Linked DNA regions of Homo sapiens. The protein of the gene in region 3 interacts with the protein of the main gene of each other region in a pairwise test. Each region holds a gene or a part of one and is shown on either strand. Other genes may lie near its edges. The genes, in order: DPYSL5, POLR3F, WFS1, ZNF696, TUT7, ZNF791 and TLR10.

Evidence for each region.
Region 1: the proteins of WFS1 (region 3) and DPYSL5 interact in binary tests that used the Homo sapiens proteins (3 or more experiments, as listed by UniProt).
Region 2: the proteins of WFS1 (region 3) and POLR3F interact in binary tests that used the Homo sapiens proteins (3 or more experiments, as listed by UniProt).
Region 4: the proteins of WFS1 (region 3) and ZNF696 interact in binary tests that used the Homo sapiens proteins (3 or more experiments, as listed by UniProt).
Region 5: the proteins of WFS1 (region 3) and TUT7 interact in binary tests that used the Homo sapiens proteins (3 or more experiments, as listed by UniProt).
Region 6: the proteins of WFS1 (region 3) and ZNF791 interact in binary tests that used the Homo sapiens proteins (3 or more experiments, as listed by UniProt).
Region 7: the proteins of WFS1 (region 3) and TLR10 interact in binary tests that used the Homo sapiens proteins (3 or more experiments, as listed by UniProt).

Annotation. Positions count from the first base shown.
Region 1 is NC_000002.12:26,931,319-26,935,561, reverse strand, and holds part of DPYSL5 (dihydropyrimidinase-related protein 5), read right to left. Parts: intron 3,923-4,243; coding exon 3,878-3,922; intron 2,305-3,877; coding exon 2,229-2,304; intron 985-2,228; coding exon 828-984; intron 1-827. UniProt on the Homo sapiens protein: Involved in the negative regulation of dendrite outgrowth.
Region 2 is NC_000020.11:18,473,708-18,477,950, forward strand, and holds part of POLR3F (DNA-directed RNA polymerase III subunit RPC6), read left to right. Parts: intron 1-1,367; coding exon 1,368-1,480; intron 1,481-4,243. UniProt on the Homo sapiens protein: DNA-dependent RNA polymerase catalyzes the transcription of DNA into RNA using the four ribonucleoside triphosphates as substrates.
Region 3 is NC_000004.12:6,296,607-6,300,849, forward strand, and holds part of WFS1 (wolframin), read left to right. Parts: intron 1-4,050; coding exon 4,051-4,243. UniProt on the Homo sapiens protein: Participates in the regulation of cellular Ca(2+) homeostasis, at least partly, by modulating the filling state of the endoplasmic reticulum Ca(2+) store.
Region 4 is NC_000008.11:143,293,674-143,297,434, reverse strand, and holds part of ZNF696 (zinc finger protein 696), read right to left. Parts: intron 1,696-3,761; coding exon 635-1,695; 3' UTR 1-634.
Region 5 is NC_000009.12:86,323,250-86,327,492, reverse strand, and holds part of TUT7 (terminal uridylyltransferase 7), read left to right. Parts: intron 1-1,978; coding exon 1,979-2,159; intron 2,160-2,968; exon of another isoform or gene 2,969-3,131; intron 3,132-3,532; coding exon 3,533-4,243. UniProt on the Homo sapiens protein: Uridylyltransferase that mediates the terminal uridylation of mRNAs with short (less than 25 nucleotides) poly(A) tails, hence facilitating global mRNA decay. Essential for both oocyte maturation and fertility.
Region 6 is NC_000019.10:12,620,722-12,624,964, forward strand, and holds part of ZNF791 (zinc finger protein 791), read left to right. Parts: intron 1-2,978; coding exon 2,979-3,105; intron 3,106-3,928; coding exon 3,929-3,989; intron 3,990-4,243. UniProt on the Homo sapiens protein: May be involved in transcriptional regulation.
Region 7 is NC_000004.12:38,780,054-38,784,992, reverse strand, and holds the start of TLR10 (toll-like receptor 10 isoform a precursor), read left to right. Parts: upstream 1-2,002; 5' UTR 2,003-2,072; exon of another isoform or gene 2,073-4,939.

The DNA.
Region 1 (4,243 bases), on a different chromosome or scaffold from region 3:
ACACACCACCATGCCCGGCTAATTTTTTGTATTTTCAGTAGAGACAGGGTTTTACCACGTTGGCCAGGCTGGTCTTGAACTCCTGATCTCAAGTGATCCACCCACCTCGGCCTCCCAAAGGGCTGGGATTACAGGTGTGAACCACTGCACCTGGCCCCAAAAATGTTAATAGGAGAGAGAAAGAAGCTGCAAGCAGTTATTGGGATAAAACAGAAACCCTTCCATAATTGGGTCCCACTGAATTCAGACCGTTCATCAAACCATTTCCTTTAGATTGGGATTGCATGGGGAAAAAGCAGTGTCAGAAATAGAAGAGCTGGAGAAAGGAGATCTGGAGGAAGGGTGTGGGAAGGAAAGGGGGAGAAAGTGCAGAAGAAAAAGGGAAAGGGGAAGGAAAGGAGGAGAAACCCACAGAAGGAGGGATGTACAGACAAGGGGCACACGGGAGCCAACAAGAAGAGGGAGAGGTGAACAAAAGAAACAGAAAGGACCCCTACATTCTAGGATAAGTCACAGGCCACGTTCTGCAGCTCCCCACTGGGCTTTAGAGTAAGAGATCAATGTCCTTTGAAATTCCGAATAACCACGGTTCACAGTTCTATATGTGCTCTTCACTCTTATACTTCAGAAGATCTCACTCCATATCAAGCGGTCATAAAATCCCAATAGGATGGCAATTATCTGATGGGCTCAGAGAAGGTAAGAAAAGCACAATGATCCTATGGGCACAATGAAATCAAACCTAGCTCAGATTTGTTTCCTGGGCCCTCTATGACGTCTTCCTAAAGATGTACACATCCCTGCAATGTGCTGCTGAAACGCCTTACTTGGCCAGCAGGCTCATGAGGTAGGTTGAGGTGTTGGTGTCCAGTCTCAGGGGAGGCACCGTGACATAGGCAGCCGCGTGGGACCAGTCCTGGTGGTAGTAGTGTAAGCCTGTCAGCGTGGCATGTGCAGTGGTGGTCTCCGCCAGCACAACCTTCCCTGGAAGAAGAAAGGTCAGAACCATAACCAGGAAGCCACCGAACCTGAGCGATCGCTGGTGTGTGCCTCTCATTTTACAGGTGAAGGAGCTGAGGTCAGAGACAGGAAGGGACCTGCCCAAGCTCACAGGGCTTTTAAGAGCACAGCTGGGTTCAAGCCCAGAGAGCCTCCCTATTCTGCTGACTTAGGCAAGGAGGACAGAGGGACATGGGCACCGAGGCCCAGCAGGACCAAGCGGCACTTTGAGGAGTCTGGTTTGGCCAGATGACCAGAGCACTGGTGTGTGCAGGGTGCTGTTGGCAGATGGAGCTTGACGGTGGGTGAACAGGCATGCAGGGCCACGAATGCCACGCTAAAGAGCAGTCTAGACTGTTTTCTGGACAGGCAGTTGCTGTGAGCAGCTTCAAGAGAACGGTTGTGGTAGGACAGGGAGGGCCGTAGCAGGGCTGGAGGACAGGGAGACAGGAGGTGGGAGCAGTCACCAGGCTGGGACGACAGTCTAGGCGAGACCCTCCAAGGGGCTTCAGTGAGGGGAGAGGCAGGTGGCGGGATCTAGAGGGCGATAGAGTTGAAGGCCAGGATGCCCTTGCTTCTGATCGATTATAGTTGAAGGCTGAGATGCCCTTGCTTCTGATCTGTCTCCCCAGGCTTGTGACTGTGACTTTGTTTCTCCTGCTGCCAGGCCCTCACCAGCACCTGGGGCGGGGCTGGACTCCAAGCATCTGCAAGCCTTTAGGTACTGCCAGGCGATCCGCAACAGAAGCCATACAAGTGCCCCTCGGACTCATACACAGGGTTCCAGGAGGCTAAAAGGAAGCTGGGCCCACACACTGTTCTTTCTTTAGGGACTTCCCAAACAGCCCCTGAAATGCCCACTGAAACTGGTCCAGCATTTTATGTTAGTTGCCAAGGCAACTGCTAGTAAAATCTATGAGGCCAAAAAGACACTAATTAATGAGTGGGTTTAAAACTTGGAAAATGTTACCAGACCCAGGAGAAGTGACAGACACTTCCGTAAAGCTGTTATGCATACAAATTTGCAGAAGAAAAAGCTCATGTTCTAGCAGACTAAAGCCAGCATAGCACAGGGCAGCTCTGAGGAAGACGGTGGCAGATGAAAGGGAAGGGCTGGCTCAGGTCCTGGTTTCAGGAGCCGGGGCCAGGAGTGAGCACGGCTAATGGGCCCCATCCATCTCCAGTCCCTCCACTTGACCTGCTCTGTCCAGCCAAGTCTATGGACTCACCTTGCATCTTAGCAGCTGCGATAACGTCACCAGCCGAGATACTGGACACGTTGACCAGGTAGATTGGACAGTGAGTCTAAACACAAGAAACAGTGGGAAGTAGGGAGGGTTGACCCATAAACTTCACAAGCATCAGAATAACCCTGGCAAAGTCAGCCCTGGCACCAGCGCCTCCCCCTGCGTCACTCAACCCCACCCTCAAGGTGACAGTCCTTAAGCGGAGAATGCAGGGCTGGCAGTCAGGGCAAGGTTGCAGGAACTGCATGATACGGGGAGGCAGAGAACAGCCTCCAGCACCAGAGCCCACCGGGAAGCCCAGCCTGTGAAGTTCAAGACCGTCAAGTCTGAACCTCGCATTTTCTCCCATCTGACAACCATGACTGTAATTTAAAAGGGGGGAACTCTTTTTCCTATTTTAATTTCCTGTTCATAAACGTGATGACCTAGAGTTAGTCGTGTATTCTGTATCTAAAATTACGATGCCTGCTGTCTGAAGGCTGCTTATCAGTAGACAGAATGCACCCTGGAGATGAACAAAATACAAGGGGGTTAGGGTTCAGAGTCTAGGCAAGAGAAGGCTGACCTTGCGAACGGACACCTGGACTGTAATACTGGTTAGCTTTTTCTCTACTAAGCTGTGCAACCACGGTCCATGGCTTAACTCCTCTGAGCATATGCTTGAGCTAAAAGGCAAGGAACTGACTTTTTGTTGTTTGGGTCTTTCCTTATTCTGGGTTAAGTTCCACCAGGAAGTAATTGATAAATAACTATTGTCATGACAGTGAAACAATGTCCTTGTCCAGCGGCCAGAGCTCTAAAGTGCAATTGGGAAATTCTGTTTCCCCAGATGTTATTCTGTTCTCTTTGCTTATCACATTAGGAGGATGTAGAGTTTAGGAGCTGGACTGAGTTTACACGTGAGCAATGAACTGAGCTTCAGCAGGCTCGGCGGGGTGGAATGGAAAGCTGGTGGTGAGAAGGGTGAATGCAAGGATGGTGGGCATGACAGCGCTCAGTCAGCAAACAGCTCTGGGTTCCTGTGGGCAAGACATGGTGCTGGCACCCAGAGCAGAATGGGGCTGCATCGTAGAGGTTGGTTTTCTTTCTTTCTTTCTTTCTTTCTTTTCTTTCTTTCTTTCTTTCTTTCTTTCTTTCTTTCTTTCTTTCTTTCTTTCTTTCTTTCTTTCTTTCTTTCTCTTTCTTTCTTTCTCTTTCTTTTTTCTTTTCTTTCTTTCTCTTTCTTTTTTCTTTTCTTTCTTTCTTTCTTTCTTTCTTTCTTTCTTTCCTTTCTTTCTTTTCTTTTCTTTCTTTTTTTTTTTTTTTTTTTGACAGAGTCTCGCTCAGTCACCCAGGACAGATTGCAGTTGGCACGATCTTGGCTCACTGCAACCTCCGCCTCCTGGGTTCAAGCAATTCTCCTGCCTCAGCCTCCTGAGTAGCTGGGATTACAGGTGCACGCCACCACGCCCAGCTAATTTTTGTATTTTTAGTAGCAATGGGGTTTCACCATGTTGGCCAGGCTGGTCTCAAACTCTTAACCTCAGGTGATCCACGCACCTCGGCCTCCCAAAGTGCTGGGATTACAGACATCAGCACCGTGCCTGGCCAAGGTTGGTTTCTAATCCCACAGTGGACATCGGGGGACTTACCCTGTTTGCAATGGTGATAACACGATGAGTGGCTTCAGCTTCCAGCTGTTAGAAACAAAGGACAGGAGGAAACCAAACTTCACCATCTCCTCCAAGGATACCCACACCATACTCTCCCCTTCATGGAGCAACTGCACCCATAGGGGTTGGCTCGGGGCAAAGCCCGGGCAGAGGCACTAACCTCCAACTACCTTGGCTCACAGTGAGGGAGAATTCTAGGTCTTACAATACCAGGCACGCCCTTGCTGGATGCTACTTGGGGCTTAATTAAAAGGCAAGGAAACAAAAGTAAATAAAAACCCAAGGTCATGTCTCTCCTTGTTTTCTGGTGTATTCTCTCCATAGCCACCTCAGAACTGCAGCAAA
Region 2 (4,243 bases), on a different chromosome or scaffold from region 3:
ATGTATTATCTATTCAAAATAAATAAAATTTAAGTTTTTTTTTTAAATCTGTACCTTCTAGCTATATGACCATGGACAAGTTACTTAAACTTTGTGAGCTTCAGTTTCTTTATCTTATCTATAAATTGTGGATGCTGACACCTCTCGTTTTTGCAAGGACCAAAAGGAAAGCTGGTGTGGTGTAGCAGTGTCTTAACAGATGTCCCTCCGCAGCTATAGTTTCTCTTCTACCCGCTTGAAGAACTGTATCTAAATTGCAATCCTAAGTTACAATAATTTGGGATCTATTTGAGTCATTGATATTAGCTGGAAAAATTGAGATGTAATCTGAAATTACATAACTAATTCTTATATTTATTAAAATTAACATTTTTAAAAATAGTCCTATGAGAAAGCCATTCTGCATATTTTTTTAATCTTCCTATCTCATATGCCATTACATTGGGAAGAAAATAAAGCAAAATATTTACATACATTCCCTTTCCATATATAACACTTATTTCCTTCTTTGAAAAAGAAATCATTGCTTCTCACACAGGGCTTTTAGCAGCCATAAGAACCCTAGGCTTCCTTTTCCATCTCACAAATACAATGTTGTATAAATAATGGATTACATGCATGCAGACACTCATCTAAAGAGTGTTTTTGTCCCACTTGAGGATGGCAGTTGACCTTGACCCAAATTTAAGTTTGTATTTCACATTTACAATCTAAAATGAAAGTATCAGAAAACAGAGATAAGGGTACAGATGATAAAATTCCATTGCATCCATGATTTTTCCTTCCATTATAAAAACGTCGTTTTCATAATTTTTTTTTTCTTTTTTTTGAGATGGAGTCTTGCTCTGTTGCCCAGGCTGGAGTGCAATGGTGTGATCTCGGCTCAGTGCAACCTCCGCCTCCCGGGTTCAAACGAGTCTCATGCCTCAGCCTCCCGAGTAGCTAGGACTACAGGTGCATGCCATCAGGCCCGGCTAATTATTTTTGTATTTTTAGTAGGGACAGAGTTTCACCATGTTGGCCAGGCTGGTCTCAAACTCCTGAGCTCAGGTGACCCACCTGCCTCGGCCTCCCTAAGTGCTGGGATTACAGGCATGAGCCACCATGCCCAGCCCTTTCCATAAGTTTTTTAAAAGTTTGCCACACTGGGATTCCAAGAAATTTCTAGTTAGAAATTATAAATCATTATAATAAGTCTTACAAAGCATTATACTTATTTATTGTTTAGCATACTTTTGCTACTTTAGCCAGCATTCTTTACTGTTAGCTTTATACTGCTAGCTTTGGAATGAGACACAAGTTAGAGGAATAACATTAAAAATCCATGAAAACCAGAGTTCAACTTATTTTACTTTACTTTCTTATAGGAATATGGAGCAGAGATATCCGCTATAAAAGTAATTTGCCATTAACAGAAATCAACAAAATTCTGAAGAATCTGGAAAGTAAAAAGCTTATCAAAGCTGTTAAGTCTGTAGCAGTGAGTAGTCCTTTCCTCAGATACCCACTTACATATGTTGCTTCAAGTTTTTATTCTTGAAGTTATGTCATGATTTAGAACAGCTGGTCAAAAAAGACTTAAAAATTTAGCTCATGTTGGATTGGTTTGGAGATGCTGCTTAGACTTGTCCCTACACAGTTAGCTCTTGGTGTCTCACTCACCCACTCAAAAATCTAAAACTACTTTACTGTCTTCAGTGAAGAATCTTTGGAACTGTGAACATTTTTCCTAGATTTTGTGGTGTGTAAGATAATTTACTTTATCCCGACATATTAGCTTTCTCATTCAACAAAGAGTGTTTGCTGTGTGCCAGACACTGTTTTGAGTGCTTGGGATACATTAATGAACAAGTCGTAGAAAGATCCCTGCCTTGGTGGAGCTTCTCTTCTAGTACACGTGTGTTTTTCCTGCTCCTCATCCTGCCCCACCCCTGCTCCAGAGCTGGCTCCCTCGGGGACATCTGCCCCTGACCTCACTGATTTAGACATCAGAGGAACTGAGATTCCCCTAGAATAAAGTTTGCTTCAATACACATTTCATAAGAATTACAGCTATAATTCAAATTTTATAATTTCAGAGCTGTTAGGTCTGTGGCAGTGAGTAGACCTTTCCTCAAATATCCGCTTACATATGTTGCTTCAAGTTTTTATTTTTGAATAAAACAAGAATTATAAGAATTATAACATCACTTATAAGAATTTGATGCTTATTAGTGATTTTATTTATCAGAATAGCATTTCCCTTCCACATTGTTTAATGGATAATTTCAAATATATACAAAGGTAGAAAAAATCATATAATAAAACCCTATCATGTAGCCTCATTTTGTCAGTCCTCCTTCTACATCTTTATGTTTAATAACAGCTCTGCTGAAATATAATTCATCATTCATACTACAGAATTCATTCAACCTTTTAAAGTGTAAAATCTTTGGATTTACAGTCACTGGTTTTTACTATAAGCTAAGAGTTGTGCAACCATCACCGCTGTTCTAATTTTAGAACATTTTCATCACCCCCAAATGTGGCCACTAGTATTTGTTTCCCAGCCTCTCTTTCCATAGGCCCTAAAAACGAATAATTTATTTTCTGCCTTTATTATAGATTTGCCTATTCTGGACAGTTCCTATAAATGGAATAATAGAATATGTAGTCTTTTATGTATGACTACTTTGACTTAGCATGATGTTTTCAAGATTTATCCATATTGTGCTTTATTCCTTCTTATTGCCAATTAAAATTCCATTGTATAGATGTATATCACCTTTTGTTCATTCATCCGTTGGTGAACTTCTGTGTCCTTTTAAGGGTTAAAATAATCTTAGATCTCAGTGTAAAGTGCAAAACTATAAAACTTTTTGAAGAAAACATAGAAAATCTACATGACCTTGGCTTTGTTAATGAATTCTTGGACTATAACTCCAATAGTAGTCTATGAAAGAAAATGTTAATAAGTTGGAGTTTATCAAAATTTTTTGAAAACCTCTGCTTTGCAAGACACATTAAGAGAATGAAAAGACAAGTTACATACTAAAAGATATTTGCAAATCACATATTTGATAAAGGACTTGTCTCCAAAATATACAAAGAACTCCTAAAATTCAGCAATAAGAAAACAACACTTTGGGAGGCCAAGGCGGGTGGATCACCTGAGGTCAGGAGTTCAAGTCTAGCCTCACCAACATGGTGAAACCCTGTCTCTACTAAAAATACAAAATTATCCAGGCGTGGTGGCACATGTCTGTAATCCCAGCTACTTGGGAGGCTGAGGCAGGAGAATTGCTTGAACCCAGGAGGCAGAGGTTGCAGTGAGCAAGATTGCACCATTGTACTCCAGCCTGGGCAACAAAAGCGAAACTCCATCTCAAAAAAAGAAAAAAAAAAAAAAACACACAATGAAAACAAATAATCCAACTAAAAATGAGCAAAAGATCTGAACCTCACCAAAGAAGACATACAGATGGCAGATAAGCATATGAAAAGATGCTCTACATTATTTTTCATTAGAGAACTGCAAATTAAAATAAAATTTAGTATAGTGAGATACCACTACACACCTATTAGAATAGCTAAAATCTAAAAATTGGTAATACCATATGCTGACAAGATACAGACCAAGATGAACACTCATACATTGCTAAGAATGCAAAATTTTCAGTCCTTTTGTTAAAAAACTGGGCAGTTTTTACAAAACTAAACAGAGTCTTACCACATTGTCCAAAGGTCAAGCTCTTAAGTATTTACCCAACTGATTTGAAAACTCATGTCCACATAACTACATGAATATTTATAGCAGCTTTATTCGTAATCAGCAGCTTTATTCATAATCAAAAACTGGAAGCAACCAAGGTATCCTTCAATAGGTGAATGGATAGACAAACCAGAATAGTATTCAGTTATAAAAAGAAATAAGCTATCATGAAAAGATATGAGTAAATCTTAAATGCATATTGCTAAGTAAAAGAAGCCAGTCCGAAAAGGCTACATACTGTATGATTACAACTATATGACATACTGGAAAAGGCAAAACTAGACAGACTAAAAAGATCGGGGTGAGGGCAGGGATGGTAGGGAAAGTTGAATAGGTGAAGCATGAGAAATATTTCTAGGGTGGTGAAATTATTTTGTATGACAGAAGCATTAACCAAATTTGGAAGCCCACCCAAGCTTTGCTGTCCAAAGTTTTTATTAGGGTTTCATTATACAGGCATGATTGATTGAATCCTTGGTCATGTGAGTGAAT
Region 3 (4,243 bases):
GCAAAGACACTCCCGAAATGAGAGTGAGGGTCACAGGTGAACGGGTTAACTTGGAGAAGACCCTTGGGCCAGGCGGCCATGGCCCAGGTGTCCCAGTTTATGCCATCTGGTGTAAGTACTATTATAATAATGCCTCCTTGCATATGCGTCCTGTTCGGAAAATTATGTCACCTAGTTATGGATGGTGAGTCTAGTGTTGTGTAGCATCTGAAAATCCTATTTATTTATGTTACTTAATGACAGGGTCTCGTTCTGTTGCACAGGCTGGAGTGCAGTGGCACGGTCACAGCTCACTGCAGCCTCAACGTGCCAAACTCAAGTGATCCTCCCACCTCAGCCTCCCAAATAGCTGGACTACAGGCATGTGCCACCACACCCAGCTGATTTTTTTGAAAACATTTTGTAGCGATGGGGGTCTCACTATTGTTATCTACGCTGGTCTCAAACTCCTGGGTCAAGCGAGCCTCCCACTTTGGCCTCCCACACTGCTGGGATTCAGGCGTGAGACACTGTATCCAGCCTGAAAGTCCTTTTTAGAAGGGAGAGATTTAAGCTGTTTTGACAAGAAGTAAACAAGACTCTGTTTCCCTTTAGTTTTGGATGCTGTCAGAGCACTTCGATTCCTTTGCAGTTTGTCTTCTTAGAAGTCTCTTGTGAGGGAGGCAATGAATCGTCACAAGCGTCTCCCAGGGCTGAGAGCTGTCCCACCTTTTAGTAGCCTTTTGTAGAACAAGGAGAGGTCTTCACTCAAAGTGAAAATGACAGACACCTCTTTGTGAGCCACCCTTACTCCCACAAAGAATGTTCCAGACTCCACACAGTTCTCTTCTGGAGCCTGGAGGTGCAAGCTGTCATCGTAGATAGAATCCTCTGAAAACAAACTTAATATCTTAAAATCGTAACATTTTTAACATTACATAATTGGAAGATCCGACACGGGAACATTTTTGCCCACAGGTTTGAGCAGAATCTCGTCTCGGCTCCCTTCCCCAGCCTGCCTTCTTCACGGGTCCGCTGGGCCATCGGTGTGGTGACGCTGCTTCCTGGTTTCTCGTGGCAGCAGAAGGGCCGATCACCACAGGCCCAGACAGAGAGCTCTGCAGTGTTCTATTCATAGAGGCAGACTCCTCATAGTTTTTAAGTTTCGTTCTTTTTCCATCTCAGGAGTTGAATTTGTTTGGACCTTCTTTGCAGAAAAGGAGACTGAACTTTTTAATCCCATGTCAGAGGAAGGTCTTGGGTGTACATTGCAGGGAGCAGAAATTGGGGCTTTAAAAAGGGGATCGTTCCCTGGTCATCGAGTTCAGGTGGGGGACCAGCCCCTCCACACTGTCCAAGCAGAGGCTAGACGCCATCCAACGTAATGTTCTAGAATATTCCTTGTCTTTTAAAGGCCCTCTCAACCAGGTGGTTGTGTGTGTTCTAGGCAAAAGAATGTGCATGGCTTTGAGTAAGACAGGATTTCAGATTTATTTTTACCAAGGCCACCCCCTTGCTACCGTGGCGGTCGTGCGTGAAACTGGTGGTGAGCAGTGGCGGGCCAGGCCACCTTTAGTTGTCCTGCTGTTCGCAAGGCCCCCATACGGGGATTAACTGAGCAGCCTGCCGGCTGACGCACATGTTGACTCGTGTAGCTGTTGATTTTAGCCAGCTGGCCTGGCGTCATACTACAGGGGCTTGCCCCAAACAAACCCTGGAGTAGGTTGGTTTTCATAAATGCCCTCTGGCTCTCTGGCAAGCGTTGGAAATGCCCTCAAACCCTGTAGTGCCTGGTCTTCCCTGGCCATCTCCTGGCAGTGTGAGCGCCTCTCTGCTCATGTAGAAGGTTGTTGACCCCAGAGAGAGCTAGGGGAGCTGTTAGCTGCTTTAATCGTTTATTTGCTTGTTATAAAACAGAGATTAAGTGGACTGTCACAAATATACATGAAGCAGCAGAGCTGTTCCCCCACGTGTAGACGTGCATGCACACACTCCTAAACACTTCCGTTTCTTCCATGAGCCTGTCCTTCTCATCTGTGGAAGGCTCAGTCTGTGTAGACATGCATGCACACACTCATAACACTTCCGTTTCCTCCATGAGCCTGCCCCTCTCCTCTCATCTGTGGAAGACTCAGTCTTCTGGTTGTTTCCAGGTGTCCTGGTCCTCCAGAGCTGATAGCCAGGCTGTTGGCAGGTGAGGGCCACATTCTGGTGTTGTCACCTAGTTGCCATTCACCTGGGATCCCTCCTTGGCCTTCTGGTGGGCCTGGTGGAGAGAACCTGCCCCAGGGGATTTGTGGGGTCTGGTGCTTCCCCGAGGCCCGGAGCTGATGGGGGGCTCCAGCCTGGATGTGTCATGTAGCCCCTCAGTGGGCCCTGGACATGCAGCCAGGCTTCCCTACCCCCATGTGGGGCCGCCCCCTAGGCGTCCACTTCCTGGTGTTGGTCCAGGCCCCTGGCACTTCTGAAGATGCACAGAACCTGCTTTGTATGCCACGCCATGCTGTGTGAGCACTGGCACCATGGCCACTTTGTCCCCCATCCCCTCCAGTCCCTCTGCCTGGCTGCCCTGTGTTCTGGCAGGGCTCAGGGCCTCTGAGTTCTGCACAGACCAGGAAGGCATGAGGGCTGGCCCTGGGTGGCAGCGCTGCTTCACCCCATCCTGAGGCTGCTCCCAGCATGCCTCCCTCAGCCCTCTGCTCCTCTTGGCTGTGGTGAAGGCCAAGAGCTCTTTCTGACCTTAGCGCTGCATGCAGAGCAGGGGAGCAGGACCCACAGGTCGGGGGAAGGCAGCCTTTGGCCTTGACTATGGGGAGGTAGGGGTGCGCTGGTGTGTATGTGTAGGTGCACACGTGTAGGGGTGGGTGTGCATGTGTGAGGGTGCACGTGTGGGGGTGGGTGTGCACGTGTGTGTAGGGGTGGGTTGCGTGTGTGTGAATGTGTATAGGGGTGGGTTGTGTGAATGTGTGTGTAGGGGTGGGTTGCGTGTGTGTGAATGTGTGTGTAGGGGTGGGTTTGAATGCAGGTAGGTTGCGTGTGTGTGTAGGGGTGGGTTGCGTGTGTGTGAATGTGTGTGTAGGGGTGGGTTGTTTGCGGGTAGGTTGCGTGTGTGTGAATGTGTGTGTAGGGGTGGGTTGTGTGAATGCGGGTAGGTTGCGTGTGTGTGTGTAGGGGTGGGTTGCGTGTGTGTGAATGTGTGTGTAGGGGTGGGTTGTTTGAATGCGGGTAGGTTGCGTGTGTGTGAATGTGTATAGGGGTGGGTTGTGTGAATGCGTGTGTGTAGGGGTGGGCTGCATGTGTGTGTGTAGGGGTGGGTTGTGTGTGTGTGTATGGGGTGGGTTTGTGTGAATGCGTGTGTGTAGGGGTGGGTTGCGTGTGTGTGTGTGCACGTGTGTGTACGGGCAGAAGGTGGCCTGGCAGCTGCTTCTCAGGGTCTCCGGCCATAGGGAGGGCAGCTCACCCGGCAGCCCCGTGCAGCTGAACGGTATTTTTGCTGGGAGAGTGGTGCTGGGCCCTCTGCCTGTGTCTGCACTGAACTCCCTTTCCCTAATGCTTGCTCTGCCACCCCTCCGGGGACTGCCTGCGGCTTCTCCTCCTCGTAAGGATCGCCATTTCCCTTCATGGAGGCTCAGGGAGGTGACATCCTTGCTGTAGTGCAGAGCTGGGTCACAAAACCAGCTCCCAGACAGGCATCTCAGGGCTCCGTCATCTCTTCATGTGGGTGACCCTGAGGGGAGGGAAGTGGGGAGCCCGTGGGTCCCTCCAGTGCTGGAGGTCTTGCAGGGAGAGAAGCACACATGCATCTAGTCACGCTGGTAGAAGGTGGGGAGCCAGGCACGGGGCAGAGGGGGGCTCCAGGCCCAGAAGAGGGAGGGCTCACAGGGACCGCGAGCATGGGGAGGGCCACCTGGAGAAGGGGGGAGGGAGGACCACTAGGATGGGGCTGGTGATGGGAAAACGCAAGGGTGCGGGTTCCTTTTGCCCAGAGGCAGGGTGGTCAGAGGGAGGCGTGAGATGGGAGCAGTGGGGGTCCTGTCCCAGCCTCGTTCCCACGTACCATCTTTCCCCCAGGTGGTCAAGTACCCCCTGCACGCCATCATGGAGATCAAGGAGTACCTGATTGACATGGCCTCCAGGGCAGGCATGCACTGGCTGTCCACCATCATCCCCACGCACCACATCAACGCGCTCATCTTCTTCTTCATCGTCAGCAACCTCACCATCGACTTCTTCGCCTTCTTCATCCCGCTGGTCATCTTCTACC
Region 4 (3,761 bases), on a different chromosome or scaffold from region 3:
CGTGTGATCCGCCCGCCTCGGCCTCCCAAAGTGCTAGGATTACAGGCGGGAGCCACCGCACCCGGCCAAGTTCCATAATTTTCTAAGCACACAGAAGTCGGGACCATATGAACCGGCTGTGAAAAGGCGTTGAAATACATGGATGAACCACCGACCCGCAAGGTACGGGGGAGGACGCGAGGCTTCCATGCCCTGTCTGGGCGCCCCCTTCCTAACTGCCCCCCCACCCCGCCTTCACCAACCCGAAGCCCGAGGCCCTCATCTCATGCAGGGTTTTGATGGAGGCCTGGTTGCGGAGGAATGACCGATTCAATCACCGGCCACTGCCCCGCAGCAGCTGACCGTGGGAGGCGGGGAGTCTCAGAGGCGGGCGGCCGGCCCGGGACAGACCCCTGAGACCTCCCCGCCTCTGGGAATCGCCTCCCGCGGGCAGCGCTCGCCTTCCCCGAGCCCTGTCTCTCCTGATTGCTCCCAAGCCAAGGCGGATGCAGGCCTGGCGAGGCTTTCGCAACCCGAGAACCAGGCGCGCAGCCGGCTGTTACTTCCTCACCGCGCACGGGGCGGACAGGAGCCTCCCCCGGCCTCGGCCTCGCGCCCACCAGGCCGCCGGCATCTCTTCCGCCGCAGCCCCGGCTCACTCGGCGCCATGCACCCGCCGGTGCTGGATGAGGTGGAAGCTCAGGCGGAAGGCGCGGCCGCACTCGGTGCAGCGGAACGGCTTCTCGCCCGTGTGGAGTCGCTGGTGCCGGAAGAAGCCCGACAGCGCCCGGAACGCGCGCCCGCAGTGGCCGCACTGGTGGGGCTTCTCCCCGGTGTGGATGCGGCGGTGCTCGCGGAGGAAGGAGCTGCGGCTGAAGGCGCGGCCGCAGTCCTGGCAGGCGAAGGGCCGCTCCCCCGTGTGCACGCGCTGGTGCTGGAGGAGGTTGGAGCTCTGGCTGAAGGCCTGGCCGCACTCCCGGCACTCGTACGGGTTCTCCCCGTGGTGGGTCCGCCGGTGCCGGACCACGTTCGAGCTGTGCAGGAAGCGCTTCCCGCACTCGCCGCACGCGTACAGCCTCTCCCCGGTGTGGGTGCGGCGGTGCTTGGCGGCGTCCGACCTCTGGCCGAAGGCCTTGCCGCAGTCGGCGCACGCGTAGGGCTTCTCGCCCGTGTGCACGCGCTGGTGCCGGAGGAGGTTGAAGCTCTGGCCGAAGGCCTTGCCGCACTCGGCGCACGCGTAGGGCCTCTCCCCGCTGTGCGCCCGCTGGTGCCGGACCACGTGCGAGCTGTGGATGAAGGCCTTCCCGCAGTCGCTGCACTCGTACGGTTTCTCCCCCGAGTGGATGCTCCGGTGCTTTGCCGCGTCCGAGGAGCACTTGAAGCTGCGGCCACAGGCGCCGCACGGGAAAGGCCGCCCCTTCCAGCTGCCCCCGCCCTCTGCGCCGGGGCCTGCGTTCGGAGGGACGTCTGACTCGAGGCCACTCTGTCCTCCAGTTTTCTCAGAAGTGACCGGGCCTCGAGGGGAACCTCCGGGCCTCTCTCTGGCTTCCTGGTTTTCACAAAGGCCAAGAGACCCCAACGCCCGGGGAGGCCCCCCTCTGTGGCCCTCTCCCTCGGGAGCGCCTGCCTCTGCGGCAGGCTCCGTGCTCTGAGCTGCCTGCACCTCGGCTGACCGGCTGCCACTCGGGGCCTGCGCCAGGAAAGCAGCCTTCACAGCTGAAAAAGAGGCCAGACAGGAACGATTTTAGATGTAAGAGAACGTGAGTCGAGGGTGGCTCTGGCAATCGTGGTGACGACAGAGTGACAGTGATGGTGACGTCAGTGTGCCACAGACACCTTTGATTTTGCCCATTCAGTTCCCGCCTCGTTTTTTTTAGTTTTTTTCTCCTCCCCACCTTCTTAACCCCCATGGTTATGAGGTAGACGAGAATCCTGCACTGCCACTCCAGAAACGGGGCTGTGGGGCCGGATGTGGTGACTCACACCTGTATCTCCGCACTTTCAGAGGCTGAGGCAGGAGGACCACTTGAGACTTGGAGTTCAAGACCAGCCTGGCCAACATAGTGAGATCCTGTCTCTTAAAAAAATAGAATTTTAAAAATATACAAACAGAAACGAGGCTAAACGGGGCTAGAAACAGGGCTAAACCTCTAGCCTCGGCCCACCCAGTCCTGGGAGGGGAGGGGACAGAAACGCAGGCTCTGGGCACTGCCTTACTCTGCGGGACAGCTGGGAAAGCAAAGGAGGCTGGAGACAGCTGGCAGCAAGCCAGGACGGGAGCGAGGCAGATGTAGCAGGAGGCCCGGGGACAGTGGCACCCAACAGAGCCCACGGCCCAGCTCTGCCTTCTGTCTGTCCTTCCTTCCTTTCTTGTGAGCCAGGGTCTTGCTCTATCACCCAGGCTGGAGTGCAGTGGTACCATCATGGCTCACTGCAGCCTCAGGGCTCAAGTGATCCTCCCTCCGCCTCCCAAGTAGGTGGCGCACCTCCAGGTGAGCACCACCACACCAGGCTATTTTAAAAATTTTTTGTAGAGACAGTGTGTCAATGTGTTGCCCAGGCTGGTCTTGAACTCCTGGGCTCAACCCTCCTCCCACCTGAGCCTCCTAAAGTGCTGGGATTACAGGTGTGAGCCACCACACCCAGCCATGGCCCCAGCTCATTCCTTTTACCTTGGACTCCCTGAGACAACGCAGACTCCTTAACAACTGCCCCCAAACACCAAACTCTAAGGGCTTCTGTTATGTGCAAACAGGAGCGTCCTCACTCAGACAGAAATCCGGACCAAGAGGCCAGTCGCGGTGGCTCACGCCTGTAATCCCAGCACTTTGGGAGGCTGAGGTGGGCAGTTCACGAGGTCAAGAGATCAAGATTAGGTGAAACCCTATCTCTAATAAAAATACAAAAATTAGCTGGGTGTGGTGGTGCACACCTGTAGTCCCAGCTACTTGAGAGGCTGAGGCAGAAGAATCACTTGAATCCAGGAGGTGGAGATTGCAGTGAGCTGGCGCCACTGCACTCCAGCCTGGCGACAGAGCAAGACTTTGTCTTAAAAAAAAAAAAAAGAAAAGAAAAGAAATCCGGAACAAGAGCTGGAAGCAGCAACCCACGTCCCATGTGGGCTGGGCGGCGGCGGCGCTGGTCAGGCTGAGCAACCCCATCCAGGCTGCGTTATCAATGGCCCTTGTCTGGCAGTCAAGCCACTGGTTAGATTTGGTTCCACTGGCTCACAGGGACAGACCATGTGGCCATTTAGAAAAAAGGCTTAAGGGGTAGGGGTGAAACCCTGGGACATGAGAAAGCTGGCAACTGAGCTTGGCCTGCATAGGAGGCAGGAGGACTCAGCCAGGAGGGGCAGCAGGAGGAGGGGGGCCAACGAGGCCAGCACAGCAACTGAGGAGGACTTCTCAGTCTGCAGGCAGTCCGCTGTGGCAGCAGAGGAGAAGCGGCTGAGTCCCAGCTGCACCTCTCAAGAATGTGGAGGGCGCAGATAAGACGGAAGCTCCTGTGGAGGTGGGGGTGGGGCAGGGATGTTCCAGGGCAGATGAGAGCAGGCTGCTATCGACAGTCCCCACCTCTCTCTGCCCTTGCAGACCCCTGACACTGAGCAGCCAGGGGGCGGGAGGCGCTCAGGGCGGCCTGCAGAACAGAAGCCCCTTGGCAGAGGCCCAGCCCTGGTCTTGTGGTTTGCAGACTTGGAAGTTCAAGAACTGACTCAAAGGTATTGCTTATGAGGAAAAAGAACCAAGACTATGGTGAGAAGGGGACACATACGTGGTGGA
Region 5 (4,243 bases), on a different chromosome or scaffold from region 3:
TGTGTCCTTGGGCAAGTGACTTCGCCTTTCTGTGCACCAGTTTCCTCCCTACTCATGGGGATAATATTGGTACCCTCTCATAGGGTCACTTACAGAATGCTTAACTCAGTGCCGAGCATGTGGTGAGCACTCAGTAAATGTTAGCTGCTATTCTTATTTTATTTGAAAAAGAAAATGTTCTCTGCTTTAAAGAAAACCAGTTTAAGTTCCTGTAGTCTAGATATTTCAAAGGTCTCTCCAGTTTCATGTTATGGTATTATCAAGTCATTTCAGTGAGATGCTTAAAAATCCTTTGTAATGCCGCTATGGATAAAGAGGTAAAATGTAATAATGCTTAAAATTTCTGGGGGGTTTATTTGTGTCCTCAAACTGTAGTGTTTGGGACTTAGACAACTTCCATTTTTAATCAGTTCTGCCTTGTAAAGCCACCAGATGACTTTGTATTACTTGACAGAACCTTTGTGATTGAGAAAAATAGACCACTGATTTTGAAGCTTAATATAATAAAGTATGATTGAAAACAAATTTGTGCACCTTAGAGGAAATTACTTTTTTCAGTGTGAATTATAGGAAAAGCTATTGCTGTAAATCCATTTAATGCTTTATTTTTACATTTTTATGTTATTTGGAAAGATTAATCATGCTGCCACTTCTGAAATAAAGTGAGCTTCAGACATTATGGGGTTGCATATGGTGTGCACTGTACTGAGATCAGGAGACATTGAGACATTGTTCTCATCCGGCCACTGCCAGGCAGTGCAACCTTCTGACAAGCCATGGGCACTCGTGGGGCTTCAGTTCCTTCTCTTGTAATATACAGGAGTTGAACTAGATTACCTCTTAAGAGCATCTTACAGTGGTGACATTGTGTTTCAGTGATATATGGATTTCTTGTACTTAAAAAGGCTATACCTACGTGGAAAAAATACAGAGAGCAACCAAGTCTGCCAGATGCTTTCCCTTGTTTCTGATTTAATCCTCATCACTATCCTGTGTTATAGGTGGTATCATCCCTACTCTGCAGATAATGATAGCGACCATTTTTTGAACACTGTGTGCCAGGCACTGTGCTAAGCACTTTACAGACACTATCTCACTCAGTCCTCCCAACAACCCTATGAGGTGGGTACTGTTATCCCCATTTTTCAGATGAGGAAACCCAGACTTAGACAGATTATAGACCTTGACCCAGATCATACACAGCTAGTACATGGCAGAGTTTGGATTTCAGATCTAAGCTTGTCCCAATTCCAAAGCCTGTTCTCTTAGCCACTGTGCTGTGCTACCAGTCTGAGAATGAAGAAGCTAAGTCACAGAGCAATTAAGAGCTATGACGTGGCAGAATCTCTATTTGGGCCCATATTTTCCCCTATCCTAAGTAATATGTACTTTCTAATATATTACATCGCAGTTATGTTCCAACTTGTCAGAAGTCTGTAACTGTAAAACCAGTGTCAATTTCTGATGGCAAGAGTTATTTGACTTTAAAATCAGTTGTCACTGACAGAGTCAATGTGCTTATGTAGCTTCTCAGGGCAGTGAGAGGAGTGTTTTTCCTTTTTCTCTATGCCTTTAGCTACTGTCCATTTTTGTGTGTCTGTGACTGTAAAGGTGCCTCCAGCAGCAGTAACAGGAAGAGTTCAGTGCTGAGAATATTAGCAACCCATGCACAGTCCTCTCCACCTGTTATTAACAGTTCAAAATTAGGAGCTCTGTCTGGTTAAATAAAACTGATCCTGTCTATTCCTGTGATAATGACTGGATTATAGCATACTCTAATCCTAATAGTGCAGTGAAGTAATGCTGTTTTACCACAAACAAAATAGAAGTTAGAATTGATTTATCTAGATGGATTGTCAGGCTTATATCTTTGTTAAGGTTTTCCAGATTTTTTTAATTTGATGCTTAAATGATCTTTAATTTTCCAGATTGTACTTACATCTGAAATAACCTGTATGTTTCTCTTTGCTATTAATAGGTGTCATTAATATTGGATGTGAAACACCAGCCTTCAGTACCAGTTGGGCAGCTCTGGGTGGAATTGCTGCGGTTCTATGCTTTAGAATTTAATTTGGCTGATTTAGTGATAAGTATTCGTGTCAAAGAATTGGTATCTCGGGAATTGAAGGATTGGCCCAAAAAGCGCATTGCCATTGAAGGTATCTCAAAATGTTTATCTTATTCCCCCCCACTCTTTTTTTTAAAGGTACCAGTCTAACAGCATGCTTTTTATTTCAGTCTCTTTTCAGCTCCTACAAGTAAGGTAGGCCTGCCCTCAAAGGGAAATAAATAGTTAGAATCTTGCATGTGTTAACAGTGGGTCATTTCAAGGAATCAAACTGTTCACCCTGGGTTTTTAAAGTATAAACAACTTGAATAATGGCTGGCTGAGTCCTTGCTTTCTTTGTAGATTGCTTAACCACTTAAATGCCTAAAGTATGTTTTTCACAGTGATGTGTAAATCCCCCTTTCCTCTTTACCATTCTCACCTCTGGATTTTTTAATTCAGTCCTTTTGTGGATTGTTGAAGTTGTTTAGTTTTGCAAAGGTGAGGACAATACTTTTTCTCGTCAAAAATGTCATTCTCCATTGGATTCCTCTCCAGTAGAGAGAATGAGTAGTTATTTTTGACATATCTACAGTAGCATTTAGAACTTATTCATAAAAACACATTTTTAGTGAAGCCTCATTTAACTGAAATCACTTTATCAAAGACACACTGATGTGCCCTGTAGACATCATTAAATGGACTAGCTCTTCTCAGCTTTGCAAAGTCAGGAGGTTGAAACCCCTCTAGAAATCTTAATTCTCCTCCTTTAAATAATTTAAAGAACCTCCTAAATGGAATTCTCTTATTTTTGCTTGATTTTTTTTTCAAGCTTTATGTTGCATAAGAGGGTTTTTTGCATTTTGCATAAATTCTGTGTGCAGTCATGGGGATCTCACATTTTTAAACCCTCCCCTGCAGTTTCTGTGGCTCAGCTCTTCTGGCCAATTGCCTAACCTGCTGGAGTTCTAGGGGAGGAGAAAAGATTGAGAGAAGTGGTGTCTCCTCCTGGTGCCTCCCTCTCGCCCCTGAAATTCAGTCCAGCCAATTCAGTGATGGGGCTTCCCAGGGCAGAAGAGTGGAGGTAAGCTCGATAAACCACAGGGCCTGGCTGAGTGGGGAGGCAGAGCACTCAGCAGCAGCAGAGCCTGGTGGGAAGATCTTCCTTCCCAAGGGCCTGAGAGCCACGCTGATAACATCTTTTCTACCTCCACAGTCACAGAGCACAATAGGGAGAAGGGGTACTGGTTCTGAACAGAATGGGTTCCCTTCATAGAGCCGATGTTTCAGAAAATACTGCTTTTTGTTCTTAAACTCTGTTTTCTTACTCCCCACCCCCAGTTTTTTTTTAAGTCTATAAAATGCAAGATAAATTTTACCATTGTTTGTTGTCTGTTTTTATCTGCAGCAGGCTAATTTTTAAAACATGAAATATAGTAACATATGAAGAGATGGATTTTTCTTTCTTTCTTTTTTTTATTACAGATCCCTACTCTGTTAAAAGAAATGTGGCAAGAACCCTAAATAGTCAACCTGTGTTTGAATATATACTTCATTGTTTAAGGACAACATACAAGTATTTTGCTCTTCCACACAAAATTACAAAATCCAGCCTTCTAAAGCCTCTGAATGCAATTACATGTATTTCAGAACATTCTAAAGAAGTAATAAATCATCATCCAGATGTACAAACAAAAGATGATAAGCTCAAAAACTCAGTTTTGGCCCAAGGTCCTGGTGCTACCAGTTCAGCTGCAAATACCTGTAAGGTACAGCCACTTACTCTTAAAGAGACTGCTGAAAGTTTTGGAAGCCCACCAAAAGAAGAAATGGGAAATGAACACATCAGTGTCCACCCTGAAAACTCAGACTGTATCCAAGCAGATGTTAACTCTGATGATTACAAGGGTGATAAAGTATACCATCCAGAAACAGGAAGGAAAAACGAGAAAGAGAAAGTTGGAAGGAAGGGCAAGCATCTGTTGACTGTTGATCAGAAACGTGGAGAGCATGTTGTCTGTGGCAGCACACGTAATAATGAGTCAGAGAGCACTTTGGATTTAGAAGGCTTCCAAAATCCCACAGCTAAAGAGTGTGAGGGACTTGCCACTTTAGATAACAAGGCTGATCTTGATGGAGAAAGTACAGAAGGTACTGAGGAACTAGAAGACTCTCTAAACCACTTTACCCACTCAG
Region 6 (4,243 bases), on a different chromosome or scaffold from region 3:
CCTCCTGAAACTGGAGAAAGGGGATTTATGTTCTTTTTTTTTTTTTTTTTTTTTTTTGAGATAGAGTCTCGCTCTGTTGCCCAGGCTGGACTGCAGTGGTGCGATCTTGGCTCACTGCAACCTCTGCCTCCCGGGTTCAAGCGATTCTCCTGCCTCTGCCTCCCGAGTAGCTGAGATTACATGCATGCACCACCATGCCCAACTAATTTTTGTATTTTTAGTAGAGGCAGGGTTTCTCCATGTTGGCCAGGGTGGTCTCGAACTCCTGACCTGAGGTGATCCACCTGCCTCGGCCTCCCACAGTGCTGGGATTACAGGCATGAGCCATCCTGACCCAGATTTTATGTTCTTTTGGAGGTATGAAATTACCTGTTAATTTTATAATCATGGGCAAATTCACCATCAGACCATTGTGGACATCAGTGAAGTCCCCTGAAAATTGATACTGTCAATCTATTCTTCAAGGTCAGCAAAGCCCAGATGACATGATTATGGATCTTCCAGAAAGTGCTCTTCTGACATTTTATCTCAATGTGTATATGTATTTGTGCTAAAAATTGGTTGGAAGCAGTTCTGAGGCTCATGGGTATAACGATTTTGTGAAAGTCTAAGTTGTGAGGGCCCCTTCCTTGTGCCTGAGCTGTCTTCCCAGTAACTTCCTAGTCTCACGAAATGGGACAGAAAGTAAAAGGAAAAACTGGGTCTATGATAGATATTACACACACAGCCGGGCGTGGTCGCTCATGCCTGTAATGCCAACACATAGGGATATATATATATCGGAAACAAGTTGAAATTAATACGTCTCTAAAAGAGTATTTCCATTCAGTCAGCAGAATCTGAGTGCTTCTGATGGCCTCAAATACTTCAGGACGATATAGGCAGCTAGACCTTCTTAAAAGTTGGATTTCCACAAGCCTCCTGGCCTCTCATGTATAACAAAAGGGGATAGAAGATTCTCAATGTGTATTTACTTATTAAAACCTCCACCTCGGTGGGGGGTCAGCCCCCCTGCCCGGCCAGCCGCCCCGTCCGGGAGGGAGGTGGGGGGGGTCAGCCCCCCCGCCCGGCCAGCCGCCCCGTCCGGGAGGTGAGGGGCGCCTCTGCCCGGCCACCACCCCGTCTGGGAGGTGTGCCTAACAGCTCATTGAGAACGGGCCAGGATGACAATGGCGGCTTTGTGGAATAGAAAGGCGGGAAAAGTGGGGAAAAGATTGAGAAATCGGATGGTTGCCGTGTCTGTGTAGAAAGTAGACATGGGAGACTTTTCATTTTGTTCTGCACTAAGAAAAATTCCTCTGCCTTGGGATCCTGTTGATCTGTGACCTTACCCCCAACCCTGTGCTCTCTGAAACATGTGCTGTGTCCACTCAGAGTTAAATGGATTAAGGGCGGTGCAAGATGTGCTTTGTTAAACAGATGCTTGAAGGCAGCATGCTCGTTAAGAGTCATCACCACTCCCTAATCTCAAGTAATCAGGGACACAAACACTGCGGAAGGCCGCAGGGTCCTCTGCCTAGGAAAACCAGAGACCTTTGTTCACTTGTTTATCTGCTGACCTTCCCTCCACTATTGTCCCATGACCCTGTCAAATCCCCCTCTGTGAGAAACACCCAAGAATTATCAATAAAAAAATAAATTAAAAAAAATAATAAATAAAAAAAATAATAAAAAAAAGACTGTCTCAAACAAAAAAAAAAAAAAAAAAAAACCTCCACCTCATTTAATCCCATATCTTAAGGAATGCTGAATGATTTGGGTAATAAGAAATTAGGCTGTGGGCTGGGTATGGTTATTCATACCTGTTATCACAACACTTTGGGAGGCCGGGGCAGGAGGATCACTTGGGGCCGAGAGTTAAAGGTCAACCTGGACAATATAACAAAACCCCAGCCGGAGGCAGTGGCTCACGCCTGTAATCCCAGCACTTTGGGTGGCCGAGGAGGGTGGATCACGAGGTCGGGAGTTCAAGACCAGCCTAGCCAAGATGGTGAAACCCCATCTCTACTAAAAATACAAAAAATTAGCTGGGCGTGGTGGCACGCGCCTATAATCCCAGCTACTTCGGAGGCTGAGGCAGAGAATTGCTTAAACCTGGAGGGGCGGAGGTTGCAGTGAGCCGAGATCGCACCACTGCACTCCTGCCTGGGTTACAGAGTGAGACTCCGTCTCAAAAAAAAAAAAAAAAAGAAAGAAAAAAAACCCATTTATCTGGGAGTGGTGTTGCACATCTGTAGTCCTAACTACTCGTGAAGCTGAGGCAGGAGGATGTCTTGGGGGCCCAGGGATTTGAGGCTACAGTGAGTTAGGATTGCTGCACTTGAGCCTAGGTGACAGAGCAAGACCCTGTCTCTTAGAAAACAACAAACAAACAAACAAGAAATAAGAATTTATCTCATAAAGAATTGAAGATCTTGCCTGTAATCTCAGCAATTTGAGAGGCCAAGGCTAGTGAATCGCTTGAGCTGAGGAGTTTGAGACCAGCCTGGGCAACATGGCAAAACCCCATCTCTACAAAAAATATACACAAAATACTTACCTAGGTGTAGTGGTGTGTTCCTGTAGTCCCAGCTACTCAGGAGGCTGAGGTTGGAGGATTGCTTGAGCCGGGAGGACTAGGCTCCAATGAACTGTGATTGTACCACTGCACTCCAGCCTAGGTAGCAGAGCGAGACCATCTATGTCTCAAAAAGGAAGAAAAAAAAATTGATCCTAAAATTTGTCTCATTTGTGTAGGATTTCTTTCATTTTTCTAAGTTGAACTAGATACTACCATTAGAGAGCAATAGGACTTACAGTGACCACAGTGAAGATGTAGCTATAAGTTTATGTGTTCAATGTGCTGTTACATTTCTAACAATTGAGTCATGCACTAAATGTTTGGAGACCACAAAATCGTGTGTGAATTTCTTATGAATTGAGGATACCTCTCATCCTTGTCAATCTCACCTATTCTCTACTTATATTGGATGTTTCAGGACTCAGTGGCTTTTGAGGATGTGTCTGTGAGCTTCAGCCAGGAGGAGTGGGCTCTGCTGGCTCCTTCACAGAAGAAACTCTACAGAGATGTGATGCAGGAAACATTCAAGAACCTGGCATCTATAGGTAAGGATGACATCATTTTTTCTTTTTTCTTTTTTTTTTTTTTTGGGGGGGGACAGAGTTTCACTATTGTCCAGGCTGGAGAGCAATGGCACAATCTCAGCTCACCACAACCTCAGCCTCCCAGGTTCAAGCAATTCTCCTACCTCAGCCTCCCGAGTAGCTGGGATTACAGGCACGTGCCACCATGCCTGGCTAATTTTTTTCTTTTTAGTAGAGACGGGATTTCACCATGTTGGTCAGGCTGGTCTTGAACTCCTGACCACAGGTAATCTGCCCGCTTCAGCCTCCCAAAGTGCTGGGATTACAGGCATGAGCCACTGTGCCTGGCCTTCTTTTTTTTTTTTTTTTTTGAGTCTCGTCCTGTTCCCCAGGGTGGAGTGCAGTGGCGGGATCTTGGCTCACTGTAACCTCCGCCTCCTGGGTTCAAGCAATTCTCCTGCCTCAGCCTCCCGAGTAGCTGGGATTACAGGTGCCCACCACCATGCCCGGCTAATTTTTGTATTTTTAGTAGAGACGGGGTTTTATCATGTTGGCCAGGCTGGTCTCGAACTCCTGACCTCAGGTGATCCACCCGCCTCAGCCTCCCAAAGTGTGGGGATTACAGGCATGAGCCACCGCACCCCAGTGACATCATTTTTTCATATCGTCAGTTAGAGAACTGCCATTTCTTGCTCATAATCACTGTTCCGAGATTTGGAATCTGAAAAGGAAACACTTCTGTAAATAAACCAGGCATGGTTACAGCTCATTGTGAACCTATAATCTAATAATATTTGTATAATTTTTAATAATTTATCATGATTATTCTTGATCTACATTTTAGGGGAAAAATGGGAAGACCCGAATGTTGAAGATCAACACAAAAACCAAGGACGAAATCTAAGGTGAGTTGCACTCACAAGAAGTAACAGTGTTCCTTGAAAGAATCTTAAAAATGTTATGGCCGGGCACGGTGGCTCACACCTGTAATCTCAGCACTTTGAGAGGCTGAGGTGGGTGGATCATGAGGTCAGGAGTTCAAGACCAGCCTGGCCAACATGATGAAACCCCGTCTCTACTAAAAATACAAAAAAAGTTAGCCAGTTGTGGTGGTGGGCGCCTGTAATCCCAGCTACTCTGGAGGCTGAGGCAGAGAATT
Region 7 (4,939 bases), about 32 Mb from region 3:
ACATAAATCTATTATAATCATTCATGTTTAAATTGATCATTCCTCCTGTAGACAAATCCATCTGGAAATTTTCTTCTTTACTCGTGATCTCCAGCAGTCACCTAAATCTTAAGTCAAGTATGAAAAAAACCTCAAAAATGTTGCTTTAAAAATTGATCCGTACTTTGCGATCTACATTTTAAAAAATACCATGCTTATTTTACCACTTCACTTCAAGAAAAGGCCTCTAGGTCAGAGGTCTCCAATCTTTTTGGCACCAGGACCAATTTCATGGAAGACAGTTTTTCCACAGACCGGGTTTGGAGATGGAGGAGAGATGGTTTCGGGATGATTCAAGCACATTACATTTATTGTGCACTTTATTTCTATTATTATGACATTGTAATATATAATGAAATAATTATACAACTCACCATAATGTAGAATCAGTGGAAGCCCTGAGCCTGTTTTCCTGCAACTAGATGGTCCCATCTGACATGATGGGAAGCAGTGACAGATCATCAGACATTAGATTCTCATAAGGAGCACGCAACCTAGATCCCTCCCATATGCAGCTCACAGTAGGGTCCAAGCTCCTATGAGAATCTAATGCTGCCACTGATATGACAGGGTGTGGAGCTCAGGTGGTAATGCAAGCGATGGGGAGCGACTGTAAATACAGATGAAGCTTCATTTGCTTACCCACCACTCACCTCCTGCTGTGTGGCTCGGTTCCTAACAGGCCATGAACTGGTACCTGTCTGTGGCCCAGGGGTTGGGGACCACTGCTCTAGATAACTCCTTTCCACCCTCTTCCTGCCTGATTGCTGAAATTATGGAGTCACCATTCCTACTCCTGCCCATCATCACATGACTGCCCCACCCAACTGATGAAAGGGATAACCGACCTGCACCTTGAAGAAAAGCATCATCAAAGAGCTCTAAGATGCTGTGGAAAACCAGTATGGTAGTTCTGCAAAAAATTAAACAGAATGGTCATACGATCCGTGAATTCCACTTCTAGGTATAGACTCAAAAGAATGTTAAGTACCAACTTAAATAGATATTTGTGCACCACGTTCACAGCAGCATTATTCACAAGAGCCAAAAGGTGAAAACTACCCAAATGTCCATTGATGGATGAATGAATGAACAAAATGTGGGACGTACATACAACAAAATAGTATTCAGCCTTAAAAAAGGAAGGAAAGATTCTATTATTCTATGTAATAATAATAGAAATGATATGGATGAACCTTAAAGACATTATGCTCAATGAAATAAGCCAGTCACAAAAAACCAAATATGGTATAACTCCACGGACATGAGGTACCTAGAGTAGTCAAATTCACACAGACAGAAAGTAGAATTATAGTTTCCAGGGTCTGAGGGAAGGGGAAAATGGGAAATTATTTTTTAATGGCATAGAATTTCAGTTTGGGATGACGAAAAATCTTTGGAGATGGGCAGTGGTGGTGGTTGCACAACAGTGTGAATGTACTTAATTAATGCCACTAAATTGTACATTTAAAAATGCTTAAGGTCAGGCGCGGTGGCTCACACCGTAATCCTAGCACTTTGGGAGGCCGAGACAGGCAGATCACTTGAGCTCAGGAGTTCAAGACCAGCCTGGGCAACTGGCGAAACCCCGTCTCTACAAAAAATACAAAAAACTTAGCCAGGCCAGTTGGTGAGCGCCTGTAGTCCCAGACATTTGCGGGACTGAGAAGCCCAGCCTCTTGCGGGCTTTAGCGCAAGAGGTCAAGGCTGCAGTGAGCAGTGATCACACCACTGCACTCCAGCCTGGGTGACAAAGTGAGACCCTACCTCAAAAAAAATAAAAATAAAAATAAAAATAGAAAGATGGTGAGCATGATAACTCCTATGTTATGTGTATTTGACCACAATTTAAAAAAGTGCTAAGATTATAATGAATATATATAACATGCAATACCAGTAGCATGCAGAAGAGGGCGGATGGGGTTTAAGCTTTACAGAAAACCTCGATTCAATTCCCTCCTGCAGCCAATTCTGACCGTGTCAACGAATCATCCACGCACCTGCAGCTCTGCTGAGAGAGTGCAAGCCGTGGGGTAAGAACCTTAGCTTTGTTTGTTGTAACTCTCATTAAAAAGATATAAGGGCTGCATGGGTATTTTCTAAAAAGGAGATAATTTGAGCTAATATTGAGGGGAGGGAAGTAGGGTTATTTAGATTTTTAGTATTTACTATTTTGTCTAGATTAATGATTAGTGACCTTGGGGCTATTGATCTGAGGAATTTCTTGCAGATGCTTGAGAGCGTGGGTTTCTTTTCACTGATTGCGGATCAAACCTGGTCAGCTCTTCTATTCAGATTGAACGGTCCTATGCACTGTGGCAAGTTTTTTCTAGCTCTTATTTCCCCACAGCGTATGTTAACCTCTGCTGGATGAAACCTTTGGCTATTTAAGGCATATTTGTTGCTCCTTTACCCCGTTGAAAAGTTCTGCATTTGTGTTACCTGTTTAAAAGTAGGGGCAGATCTGATGGATCTTGTACAATGCAGTTCTTATTCCGTTTCCTTCAGAAGTGGACAAAGAGGGCCATATGTGGTTGCTGTAAAGAAGAGGATGGTTAACAACCTGTGAGCATTTGGTTTCTTGATAAGCTTTCTCCCAGACCACCTACACTGAGCTATTAATTAGGAATAGGATGCACTTCGAGTTTTATTTCAATTCTTGTGAACTTATAACTTTCCTAAGAATATATTTATACATGTAGGCAAAGTCTCTTGAACTTTGTGGCACCTAGCAGAGTGTCCCACAGCAGCTGCATGAAGCTTCATAGACAGGGGCATGGGGTGAGAAAGGAGGAAGTGGCCGCCATGGCAGCTGGTCAGATCAATGGATTCAACCTCAGTGATTCGGTCCTTAGGATGTCGTTACATCTTAAGCCACCTCATTTCAAGGTTTGAGGTGCCTTGCATTTGGGTTTAGTTACCATCCAGAAGGAACCAGACAGGTCTGGGTTCAAATCTCTGCTTCTTCAGTTGGTCATCTTGGGCAAGTTACTTTACCTCTGGGCTTTAGCTCCTCCATCTGTAAAATATGAATAATAATGGCCGCCATTTTGTTGAGTCATTGAGGGATTAAACAAGGTAATGGACATAAAACACTTAGCTCCATGTCAGACACGTAGGAAATACTGAAAAGAAGTCATTCTTACTCTTATGTTGCAAAGATCATTCAACATTCAATAGGTTCTTAATCTCTTTTCTATTTCTTTATATCATTGGGAAAAGATAAATTAGATGATTAAATATTCTTTGGTAAAACACTAGTTGTCATTTGATGATGTCTTTTGACTTGGACTTTTAAATTATAAGATATTAAAGATGTATTAAGGAAGGTCATTCTCTGTTTTTTACCTGCTTTTAACGTAGTAGTAGGGATATGATATTAACATATATATACTATTTATAGACTACATCACCAACATGGTGAAACCCCATCTCTACTAAAAATACAAAAATTAGCCGGGTGTGATGGCAGGTGCCTGTAATCCCAGCTACTCAGGAGGCTGCGGCAGGAGAATCGCTTGAACCTGGGAGGTGGAGCTTGCAGTGAGCTGAGATCATACCACTTTACTCCAGCCTGGGCAACAGAGCGAGACTCCATCTCAAAAAAAAAAAAAAGTGTATGTCCTACTTTTAAAATTGCTTTAATGAGGCCAAGCACAGTGGCTCACACCTCTAATCACACCCATTTGGGAGGCTGAGGTGGGAAGATTGCTGGAGGCCAGGAGTTTAAGAGCAGCCTTGGCAACATAGTGAGACCCTGTCTCTATGTAAAAGTTGTTTTTATAAAATGTCATAATGCATAAGTATTGCCTGAGAGATAGGACCTTTACTATTGTTATATTAAGAGAAGTTCAAAAAGAGTTCCTCTCCCATTGTAGTCCCAGATAAGACTGTGGTATTGGGCAGGGGGAAGAAGTGGGTAAGAGATAGAAACTCTGACTTCTCAGCGCAGAGTTCCAGCTAAAGCAACTGGGTTAGATTCTGCTGCATTCTTAAGGGGCCATGGCTCTAAGACCTAGAAGCTTAAAGTCAATTGCTACAAATTAAGCACTCTATGAGAGGATAACATTAAAAGCACCTTTGTCAACCTAATGATTATAACTGCCAGGGTCCTATCAAGCCATAATAGAGCCTGAGGCAAAAGAAACAATCAGCAATACTGATCCTGTCTTTATGAAAAATTTCGATATTTTGTTCAACATAGATTTTTGCATTAATTTTCATTTTTAAAAATATTTCATGTAAACATTATCTTGATTACTGAGTTCCTTGGGACCCCCTTAACATTTATGCCTTCCTTGCTTCACCCGAGTCTTGACCTGATAACTGCCACCATTTATTAAGTGTGATATGCTAGGCATGGTACTAAGTGACTTACATACATTGTCTTATGCCTCTTCACAAGCTCCATTTTACAGATGACAAAACCAGATCTTTCAGAGATTAAATAAATGGTCCGAGTACATAGCTAATGAGTGGATGAATGGTTAACATTGGATTTGAACACAGATCCATCAATCACTAAAACCAAACTTATTCTTTTTTTTTTTGAAACTGAGTCTTGCTCTGTTGCCCAGGCTGGAGTGCAGTGGTGGCATCTCAGCTCACTGCAACCTCCACCTTTTGGGTTCAAGTGATTATCCTGCCTCAGCCTCCCGAGTAGCTGGGACTACAGGCACATGCCACCACGCTCAGCTAATTTTTTGTATTTTTTTAGTAGAGACAGGGTTTCACCATGTTAGCCAGGATGGTCTTGATCTCCTTACTTTGTGATCCACCTGCCTCAGCCTCCCAAAGTGCTGGGATTACAGGCCTGAGCCACCGCGCCAGGCCTACCAAACTCATTCTTCAACCATCATGCCCTGCACTGTATCAGGAATTCACAACATAAATTCATTCA